2 separate regions of the Homo sapiens genome follow, and region 2 is linked to region 1. The links come from fine-mapping of genetic effects on gene expression. A gene starts in region 1. The other region holds a variant in brackets. All regions are shown on one strand. Distances are between the middles of the regions.

Evidence for each region. PIP is the estimated chance that this variant, and not a neighbour inherited with it, causes the effect. A credible set is the group of variants that fine-mapping cannot tell apart.
Region 2: its variant is the best candidate, but not a certain one, in a credible set for the expression of LY6H in esophagus muscle (GTEx, PIP 0.89).

What each region holds. Positions count from the first base shown.
Region 1 is chr8:143,157,292-143,162,649 of GRCh38, forward strand. It overlaps LY6H (lymphocyte antigen 6 family member H), which reads right to left and starts at 3,030. Exons shown (of 4, transcript NM_001135655.2): 1 at 2,907-3,030; 2 at 2,291-2,418; 3 at 1,512-1,631; 4 at 625-1,194. The coding sequence starts at 2,908. The coding sequence ends at 959. LOC124902035 (a long non-coding RNA gene) reads left to right here and starts at 2,578. Exons shown (of 2, transcript XR_007061136.1): 1 at 2,578-2,695; 2 at 3,506-5,358.
Region 2 is chr8:143,303,759-143,309,116 of GRCh38, forward strand. No RefSeq gene overlaps it. Among named protein-coding and RNA genes, the nearest start is that of ZNF696, 15 kb to the left of the region's middle. RefSeq lists enhancers at 3,548-4,048, 4,049-4,549. The variant G/A (reference allele first, on the strand shown) is at 2,682.

The sequences.
Region 1 (5,358 bases):
GGTGGGGGCGAGAGGAGGCCAGCACGCGTGGTCTCATCTGTGAGTCTGTGAGGGCACCGTGTGCACTGCACGCTGAGTGTACAAGGGTGGGTGTGCACAGACATGGGCATGCACGTGTGGGTGTGGGCACGTGCACTGGGACACGCCAGTTTGTGCCAGTTATGTGCATGCCCCAGCACGTGTGCGCGGGGCACCTGGGGTGTGTGTGTGTGAAGGAGCAGGGCGGGCACGGGTGTGTGTGCACATGCTGGCTGCGTGGGCACCGTTTGTATGCTTGTCTGGGCATGAGTGTGTGTGCACATGCTGGCTGCGTGGGCACCACTGTTTGTGGGCGTGTCTGGTGTCTGTGGTGTGCTCACAGGATTCCGGTACCTCCCCCCAAGCCCACCCTGTGATCTTGCTCATCTCAGCTCTCACCCCATCACCCCAAGTGCTCCTAAACCTCACCAGGACCAAGCAGCCCCAGCACAACCACCCAGCACCCCAGTGCCCTGAGCCCAAGAGCCCAAGATCCTGGCTGAGCGCCCGCCCTGCCCCCAGCCCCTCCGCTCCCTCAGCACCTCATTCCCAGCTCTCTGCCAGGAACCCTTTCCCGCCCCCGACACCCAGGCTCAGACCCGGGTCTCAGGACTCAAAAGTGACTTTATTTCTCCGCAGAAGACGCCCTTCCAGCTGGGCTGTTGCTTCACTTCCCCTCCGGGACCTGGGGGTCCCCCCCCACCCTCATCCCCAGGCCTCCTGCCCAGATGGCCTGGTTTCCTGGAGATGTCCAGCTGCCTGGGACTCAGAGCTGGCGGAGAGACAGGGAGGCTTCACGTCGGGGGAGGAGTGAGAGCCACAGGCCACAGCCACGGAGCTGGGCCAAGGCTGCCCCCAGCCCCAGCCACGCCAGGCTGGGGAGAGGGCAGCCACAGGCTCAGGGGAGCAAGCTCAGAAGCCCCGTGGGAAGGAGGAGACATCAGGGCCCAGCCCAGAGGAGGGCAGGCCCCAGGCTGAGCAGGAGCCCCCCGGCCAGGGCCCAGGGGCTGTGCCCTGCCCCTGCCGCCCCATTGCACAAATCCTTCTCGCAGCAGTCCACGTCGACCTTTAAGATCCCAGAGTTAATAAACCCCATCAGATAGTCTGAGAAAAAGTGTCGCTTAACGAAGTCACAGGAGGAGGCACACATCTTGTTCACCGAGTGATCCTTCCTGCCTGGGAAGAGAAAGCGTGGCCTGGGACGGGGGCTCCTCCTGGGCCCTCTCTGCCTCATCCCGAGGACCCAGCCCAGGCCCCTCCGGGTCAGCTCGGGGCCCCAGTAGGCAGGGCCGAGTCCCTCCACCCTCCCACGCTGGCCTCAACTAGATGAAAAGGGCCACCAAGGAGCCAGGGGGGGACAGCAGGACAGTATCCTGCCTGCCGCCCCACGCTCTCACTCTCGTCCCAGGCCAGAGGGGCTCCGAGGACACCTCTGACCTCTCTCAAGAGCCTGGCTTTTAGCACATTCCCCACCACCCTAAGTCCCAACTTACTGCTGCTGGGATCGGTGATTCGGACACTGGCACACACCGTGTCGGACGGCTGGCACTGCTTTGGGGTGCAATGGCTGGAGTTGGTGGTCAGGGTGCAGTCCTGGCACCACAGGCCATGAGCTGGGCAGGGCATGGGGAGGAGGGTGACCAGAGGCACTGGGGTCCAAACCAGGCAGCCCCCTGCGCCCCCCACCCATCCCCCTGCTGCAGGCACTCCTGGGAGAGCCCGACCCCACGGGAGGGAGCAGGCCCCCATGACCCCTGGAGGGGGAGCAGAGGCCCTGGGACAACTGTGCCCCATCCTGGCAGTTTGAGGGGAGCCCCTATGGCCCCTCCCTGGCCCCCATGCACGTGCGTGCACACACACACACAAACACACACACGGGCTATACAGACCCCACACCGACAGTGCCCCCCTCACACTCCCGCCCCGCCTCACATATCCCCCCCAGAGGTCCGTGGGTTCCAAGCTGTGAAGGACCAAACTGGATTTGAAAGGAGGCCCGGGAGGCTCTCAGAGGTGACGGATGACCAAGGGCTTCCGTGCGGGGCCAGCCGCCCACCAGTTCCAGGCCCTGGAGGAAGAGCGCTGGAGAGAGCCCAGTGCCGGGGCAGAGGGGCCGAGGGCCGGGCTGGGGTCGCAGGGGTCCCGGAGGGGGCGTGGGCTCTATGCGAAGTGCGGTGGGAACCGTCAGAGGGTGGCAGCCCCACACCCGGCTCTCCCGCGGCGCCTCGGGCTCTCCCAGGCACCTGACCCAGCCCGCGGGCCCCCTACTCACCGGGCGCCGAGCACAGCAGGACGGCCAGCAGCGCCAGGCCGAGGCCCTTCATGGCTGCAGGCAGCATGCTCCGGGTGGGCCTGGGGGCGGCGCGGGGGCTTGGGGCGCGGGTCCTCTGGGGCGCAAGCCTGGAGGGGAGAAGCATCGGTCAGGAGACCCCAAAGACCCTCTCCTTTCCCAGCCTCAGGATGCAACCTTCTCCCCGGAATCCAAGGCCGGGGTCCGCCCGGAGCTCGCAGAGCCCCACCCCCAGCCCCTTCTCCAGAGCGTCCGCCGTCACAGCATCCCCGCCGGGAGACGTCTGGCCTCTGGGGCGAGGTGACAGCTCGAGACGCCTCCGCCCCGCGCCGGCACCTGTGTGGGGGAGCGGATGGGGGGCGTCCTCTTCTCCCCGGGGAGCTGCAGGTGCGTCCGGACAGGAATGAGCGGCAGGGGCGGGAGCGGGTGGGACCTGCCACTGGGGGGAGGGGCGCGTGCCAGGTCCCCACCCCCACCCCTGGGCTGGGGGGCCGGGAACCCCGGGCCGAGTCCCCTCCCTTGGCCTTCCGCGCGCGCCTCGGCGCTCACCGCGGATGGGGCGTGGAGCGCGGGCCTCGGGGTCGGGGGGCTCACTCACATCCCGGGGGTGTCCGCACTCCGGGCTCGGGCGGCGTGCGCGGCGCGGGGAGCTGTGCCCTTCGGTCTCCCTGCGGACCGGAATCCGGGCGCAGCCTCGTCTTTCGGGGAACGCAGCCGCAGACGCGGACCCCGCGCGAGGGGCGGGGCGGAGCCGGGGCGGGGGCCGCGCGGGGGGCGGGGGCGGCTGGGAGACGCGCGGGGCGGGGGGCGCCCGGGGCTCGCGGCCCCCACGCAGGTAGCTGGCCCGGGCCCTCCGCGCCCCCTTGCTGGCGCGCGCGCTCCCTCGGGTTCCCGCTCCCTCCCTCGCGGCGCCCCCTGCTCCTCCCCAGCCTCCGCGGCCCCCTACCCAGGCGTGGGCAGGATCCCTTCCCCCTCTGCTTGGCTGAGATCCCCTTGGAATTTCTCGGAAGAACGTTTACTGCGAAAGGAAGCAAAATGCACAAAGACGCAGAGAGGGGGAGGTACCCGGCGCGGCGCCACGCGCAGGTCCGGGTTCGCAGACCCCTGGGGTCAGACTCCCGCCCTGGGGCCCCGCCCTCCCCCTCCTCCCCGCCCCTCCCCAACCTCATACCCGTTTCCCCGTTTCCCCGTTTCCAGTGGCTCCAGGCCGTTCTCCTCCCCTGAGCATCCATGAAGACCCCCACCAGAAGCCGCAGCCCCAGGGGCTTCTGTCGCCAAATACTCCCACACTCGGAGGTAAAGGTACAAATCCTGGCCAGAGCATCCGAGCCTTGGACCCGTTTCTCGGCTTCCTTGGCCTTCCCGCCCTGCCCTCCAGCTCCCTAAAAGCTGTGCCTTTGCACGTGTCCCTGTGCCTGAAATCCGCCTCCCCGGGGCACTGGGGAAGCCCCGATCTGCCATCGTGCCTTTGGTCCTGCTCCCTTTCATTTGACCTGAAAATGTTTACTGCATGCTCCCTGCTGCCCTAGCCCTGCCCTGAGCCCTGGGAAAGGGCATGAGGAGAGAGACCTGGTTTCTGCCCTCCTGACTCTCCCCTTGGACAAATGGTGATGCCTACTGCAGCATATCTTTGCAGGATGTGACAGAGCTAACATTTATTGAGCATGTACTATGGATTCCACCTGTTCTAGACACTTCATATTTATTATCTCCTTATAGTCTCACCACAGCCCTGCTGTGCAGATAGTATCATTTCCATCTCACAGATGAGGAGACTCACACGGAAAGGCGGCGCTCCCTGCTCGGGGTCACACAGTGACGCAGGTGACAGGTGACCCAGCTGAAGTGGGAACCCAAGCAGCTTGGGCTACAGGGACTGCACACCTCCGCTCCATTGTGGCTCCAGAGGGGTGGAGGCAAGGACGAGATGGACAAGAGACCACCACAGGAGCGTGCTTTGCCTCAGGGTCAGGGAGAGCTTCTCCCAGGACCTGATACTTTAGCCGAGAACTGAATGAGGAGTTGAGATTCATAAGGTGCAGAGGGCAAGAGCTAGATCAAGGTTCAAACACAATTCTTTTCAAAACATACAGAGCTCGCAAGAAAGTAAAAGAAATCTGAGTCCATAAAGAAAGAAGTAAATAGAATAATGGACTCCCAAAGTCTGCCCACTGAGCAGGAGGCAGATGTGAAACTCACAGTGGTCCTGGGCAGACCTGGACCCCCACGGGGTCTGAGGTCCCGGAAGCAGAGCCTGAGGCAGGGATTCCAGAGCAAGCCCTTTGGTTGGAGGTGGGGATAGCAGCCCTGGGGAGTGGGGAAGTGGTCCAGGGTGGGGAAGGAGGCTGGCAAGCATGTGGTACTCAGCAACCCCCCGCAGTGGGGAAATGGAGCCTGACCCCAGAGAGGTACTCTGGGAAGTGGTGTAAACTGTGAGCCTCAGGTGAACTCACCCAAGGGATGAGGGAACAGGTATTTCACAGCGACACCCAAGAGTCATTGATTGAGGGCTGCCCCGAGGGATGCTTTCTCCTGCACCCTCCACTTGGCACCCACACAGAGCCCTCCGGGGAGCCAGGGTGGTCCCAGGTCAGTAGCATCCCTGCTTGCAAAAGCAAAACCAACGATGAATACTCTGGAGAAAGCAAGCCCCAACTTAGGGACTGAGGTTCCCACAGATTTAACTGAATCAAATATGAGTTCAAAATGAAAAATCAGCACATGTCTAAAGAAAGCAAGCCTCCAAGTGAGACTCAGCTGACAGTGACGAGCAACAGATTTAAATCACCACAAACTTTCTAAATGGAAAATATCAAATATAGGATATAAAATTAACCTATTTGTTATGCTTAAGATATATTAAAATAAGGAACAAAGCACTATGAAACCAATCACCATGCTTATCAGAAAAAAATAGAACCTCTAGAAATGAAAAACTTTTCATTGAAATGAAAAGGTCAGCAGAAACCTTGAAAGAATTACGGTAACTGAAAGAAGCCAGTCACAAGAAAACACATTGTGTGGTTTTCTTTTTATGAAATGTCCGGAAT
Region 2 (5,358 bases), 150 kb after region 1:
TTTTTTTTTGAGACAGAGCCTGGTTCTGTTTCTCAGGCTGGAGTGCAGTGGTGCGATCTCGGCTTACTGCAGCCTCTGCCTCCCGGGTTCAATTGATTCTCCTGTCTCAGCCTCCTGAGCAGCTGGGATTACAGGTGCCCGCCACCACGCCCGGCTAATTTTTGTAGTTTTAGTAGAGACAGGGTTTTGCCATGTTGGCCAGGCTGGTCTTGAACTCTTGACCTCAGGTGATCCACCCACCTTGGCCTCCCAAAGTGCTGGGATTAGAGGCACAGGCCACAGCACCCGCCCAAAGGCAATTTTTTTCACCCAAATTTTTCACTACTACCTAATCATGGTTTCTTCTGCTAATAGTCTCCTCCCCGTGTTTCTGTTCTCCAGCCCCAGACTGCACTCGCAGTCAGTGCACTGCGTCTTAGGTGTTGCTTCTGCCAACAGCTGTCTTAGACGAGGTGGCTCTGCCAACACCTGTCTTAGACGAGGTGGCTCTGCCGGCACCTGTCTTAGACGAGGTTGCTGTGTCAAAATTCCACAGACCGACTGGCTTCACAGCAGACATTTCTTTCTCCCAGCTCTGCAGGCTGGGAGTCCAGCCTCCAGGTGCCACAGACCCAGTTCCTGTTGAGGGACCACCCCCAGCTTACGGACAGCAGCCTCTTGCTCATGTGACCGTCCCGTGTGTGCTCCTGGAGAGGAGGCTCCGGTGTCTCTTCCCATGAGGGCACTCATCTCATCGTGAGGGTCCCCCAGGATCTTCTCTAAACCTGCTCCCCTCCCAAAGGCCCCACCTCCAACACTGTCTTGCTGGGGGTGAGGACTTTAACATGTGAACTGGAGGTGAGGGACAAGTATCCAGTCCACAGCAACCCCAACTCTGGGACCCAGTTTCTCTACTGGCACTTGCTGAGTAACCACCCACCCAGACGCCTGGTGGCTCACAGCTGCAGGGACACGGTGCTTCTGTGGCCGCAGGCGTGAGGACCCGGGTCCTGGCCTCCCTGGGGCCTGTTCCTCGGCTGTGCCCGGTTACTCAGGGCTGCTCTGGTCCTGCCTCCCCAAGGAGAGCCCTTGTGAGGTCACAGGTGCAGAAGGAAGCCCGTCCGATGCAGACGGATGTTCCAGCCAGGCGGAGAGGAGAAAATCAGTACCTAAAGCATCTGACAGAAAAGGAAAAAAAAATCCAAAATAAACCATTTAGAATAGACTCAGAGGACATAACACACCTGGGACTGACTTACATGATATTTAGGAAAGATGTGTAAGATTTCTACATGTAAACTGAGAGATGGGATGTTATTATTACAAATTTTCCTAAGCCAGGGTCACCCATGCTGGAGGGCCGTGGTACAATCACAGCTCACTGCAGCCTCAACCTCCCGGGCTCATCCTCCAACCTCAGCCCCACGGGTAGCTTGAGACTACAGGCGCGCACCACCATGCCCAGCTAATTTTGGGGGTTTTTGTTTGCTTGTTTTGGGAGAGACAGGGTCTCATTATGTTGCCCAGGCTGTTGAGATGGAACATTACTCACAAACATGTAAAAACTCAAACGATGGCGGGTCTGCCCATTCATGGATGGAACAGGGGGTGTCAACATGTAAAAACTCAAACAACGGTGGGTGCCTGTTCGTGGATGGAGCAGGGGGTGTCAACATGTAAAAACTCAAACAACGGCGGGCGTGCCTGTTCGTGGATGGAACAGGGGGTGTCGGGAAGGCGTCAGGGCTCCCGGTTGCTGTCAGTCGCCCGTGAGACCCGAGCAGCAGTCGCTCTGTTCTTGTGATCATGGCTGAGTGGGATCCAGTGTGAGTCTCCACCCGGCCTGTTACCCAGTTCCAGCTGCAGGGCCTGGGCGCCCTTTTCCGCCTGGGCAGCAGTGAATGAAGTTGCTCTAAGTCCCTTGCTGCTCTTGGTGCACTTAAGAGAGGGCTCGCAGGCCACAGGATAACAGGAGAGGCTGAGTGCGCGGCATCCTCCATCATGGAAACGCATCTCGCACCAGCACACGCAGCTGGCTTTTCCACTACTTTTGCCCGTCGATGGCACCACCCAGCTTTTCTCTGGGTGGGACAGGTATCTGTCCACCTGGGGTTTCTACTCTGCATGTTTTATCTTTTTTTTTTTTTTTTTCCTGAGATGGAGTTTCACTCGTCGCCCAGGCTGGAGGATAATGCCATAATCTCAGCTCACTGCAACCTCCGCCTCCCAGGTTCAAGTGATTCTCTTGCCTCAGCCTCCTGAGCAGCTGGGACTACAGGTGCCTGCCACCATGCCTGGCTAATTTTTGTATTTTGAGTAAAGACAGGGATTCACCATGTTGGCCAGGCTGGTCTTGAACTCCTGACCTCAGATGATCCGCTCGCCTCGGCCTCCCAAAGTGCTGGAATTACAGGCGTGAGCCACCGCGCCCGGCCATGTTTTATCTTTTATCCAGGTAGTCTGTGACTATCCAAACGAGGCTCTGACAGTCTACAGGGATCGTGTCAGTCTGGAGAGTTGGGTTAAAGGCAGGTTGTTCGGGGTGAGAAGGGGACGCTGAGGCAGCAGGTGGTCACAGCCTCACGTCTCAGAAGGATGCGCTGAGCAGTCCCGGGGTTTTGGGCAAGTGAGGTCCACACCCCTCTAATGAGTACCTTTAGAGGCCACTGGCCTGCAAGTTCTGATGACGGGGAACAGCCTTA[G/A]GGGCCTCTCCCTGGAGCTCCCACTCACCCCCTCGACCCCCACCCTGCTGTGTCCTGAGCTGTGGCTTGGGAGATGTTTCTGGACTGGGACCAGACCCCGCAACCTAGAGAGCCAGCTCTAGGCTGGGAATTCCTGGGCTTAATGTCCAGGCATGAAGTCAGCTCCTTGTGTGTCCTCATCTGTACAGAGAGGGAAAGGCCCATCACCGTCTCCGCGAGGACAGACTCCGAGGTGATGTGGGTCGGGCCTGCACCCTCAGTGGTTTCCCTTCTGGAGTCTGGGCCTGCTCGGCCAGTGCCCTCATTTTCTGTGGAGCTGTTCCATGTCTGGGCACAGAAGCACCTCTCTGGGAGCAGGTGGGGACGTGAGAGCCCCCTGCTGGAACTGTTCTGTCACAGGCCCCGGGAGGAGCTGGACCTGCTGCCGGAGCCCCTTGGGGCAGCGGGTGAGCCGCGGTGTGAGAGACTCGGGCCTGGAGCACCAAGGGCCCCACAGCAGGAGGGATGGGGGTGCAGCCTCCAGGGCGCTGGGGTCCTCTTGGCTGACCAGGAGCCTTACACAGGGGCTGCCTCATGGGGTTGGCGGGAGCCCCGGTGTGAGGGAGACAGCCACAGAGGCAGCCCCGAAAGCAAAGCGCGGAGCAGATGGCAGAGGATCCCACGTGGCAGAGGAGAGGGCAGCAGAGGATCCCACGTAGCAGAGGAGAGGGCGGCAGAGGGTCCCGTGTGGCAGAGGGCAGCAGAGGGTCCCACGTGGCAGAGAAGAGGGCGGCAGAGGGTCCCGCGTGGCAGAGGATCCCACGTGGCAGAGAAGAGGGCAGCAGAGGATCCCACGTGGCAGAGGAGAGGGCGGCAGAGGGTCCCGTGTGGCAGAGAGGGCGGCAGAGGGCCCTGCGTAGCAGAGGAAAGGGCAGCAGAGGGTCCCACGTGGCAGAGAAGAGGGTGGCAGAGAAGAGGGCAGCAGAGGGTCCTGCGTGGCAGAGAGGGCGGCAGAGGGTCCCGCGTGGCAGAAGAGAGGGCAGCAGAGGGTCCCGCATAGCAGAGGGCGGCAGAGGGTCCCGCGTGGCAGAGGAGAGGGCGGCAGAGGGTCCCGCGTGGCAGAGAGGGCAGCAGAGGGTCCCGCGTGGCAGAGGAGAGGGCAGCAGAGGGTCCCGTGTGGCAGAGAAGAGGGCGGCAGAGGGTCCTGCGTGGCAGAGAGGGTGGCAGAGGGTCCCGCGTGGCAGAGGAGAGGGCGGCAGAGGGTCCCGCGTGGCAGAGGAGAGGGCGGCAGAGGGTCCCGCGCGGCAGAGAAGAGGGCGGCAGAGGAGAGGGCAGCAGAGGGTCCCGCGTGGCAGAGAAGAGGGCGGCAGAGGGTCCTGCGTGGCAGAGAGGGCGGCAGAGGGTCCCGCGTGGCAGAGGAGAGGGCGGCAGAGGGTCCCGCGTGGCAGAGGAGAGGGCGGCAGAGGGTCCCGCGTGGCAGAGGAGAGGGCGGCAGAGGTTCCCGCGTGGCAGAGGAGAGGGCGGCAGAGGGTCCCGCGTGGCAGAGAAGAGGGCGGCAGAGGAGAGGGCGGCAGAGGAGAGGGCGGCAGAGGGTCCCGCATGGCAGAGGATCCCACGTGGCAGAGAAGAGGGCAGCAGAGGATCCCACGTGGCAGAGGAGAGGGCGGCAGAGGGTCCCGTGTGGCAGAGAGGGCGGCAGAGGGTCCCACGTGGCAGAGAAGAGGGCAGCAGAGGGTCCCACGTGGCAGAGAAGAGGGCGGCAGAGGGTCCCGCATAGCAGAGAAGAGGGCAGCAGAGGGTCCCGCGTGGCAGAGGAGGGCAGCAGAGGGTCCCGTGTGGCAGAGAAGAGGGCGGCAGAGGGTCCTGCGTGGCAGAGAGGGTGGCAGAGGGTCCCGCGTGGCAGAGAAGAGGGCAGCAGAGGGTCCTGCGTGGCAGAGAAGAGGGCGGCAGAGGGTCCCGCGTGGCAGAGAAGAGGGCGGCAGAGGGTCCCGCGTGGCAGAGAGGGCGGCAGAGGATCCCGCGTGGCAGAGGGCAGCCGACAGGCAGCTCTGAGAGGATACAGGGTTGGGAAGCTCAGGCAGAAGGCCATCGTAAGAGCTAAGAGCTACGTATGGAGAGTGTGGAGGTGATGAGAACTGAACGGGGGCCGCTGGGCTTAGTGACCAGGCAGCAACTGTGCCCTTGCTGAATTCCAGGCGCTAAAGAACTTGGTGAAGAGTCCGGGCCCCGCTGAGAGGGTGGCGCGTGCGCAAATGTGGAATCCTCACCCAAAGTCCTCAGCCTCAGAGCACACGAAGGTGTTTCTCCTCCCCTGTCGAGCGGGAACCGGGGGTCCAGGCTGGGACGCTGATTGGATGTGACAGCCCAGCAGACTCCATGCTCGGGGTGGAGGCTTCAAAGGACACGGCAGGCGTCAGGGACTTTTCTTTCTCTTTGAGATGGGGTCTTGCTCTGTTGCCCAGGCTGGAGTGCAGGGGCGCAATCACAGCTCATTGCAGCCTCAATGTCTGCTCAAGCAATCCTCCAGCCTCAGGCCTCTAACATGCCAAGATCACAGGTATGAGCCACTGTGCCTGGCCTAGGGACTTTTTCTTTTTCTTTTTTTTTTTTTTTTGAGACAGTCTCACTCTGTCGCCCAGGCTGGAGTGCAGGGGCACGATCTCGGCTCACTGCAAGCTCCGCCTCCCGGGTTCACGCC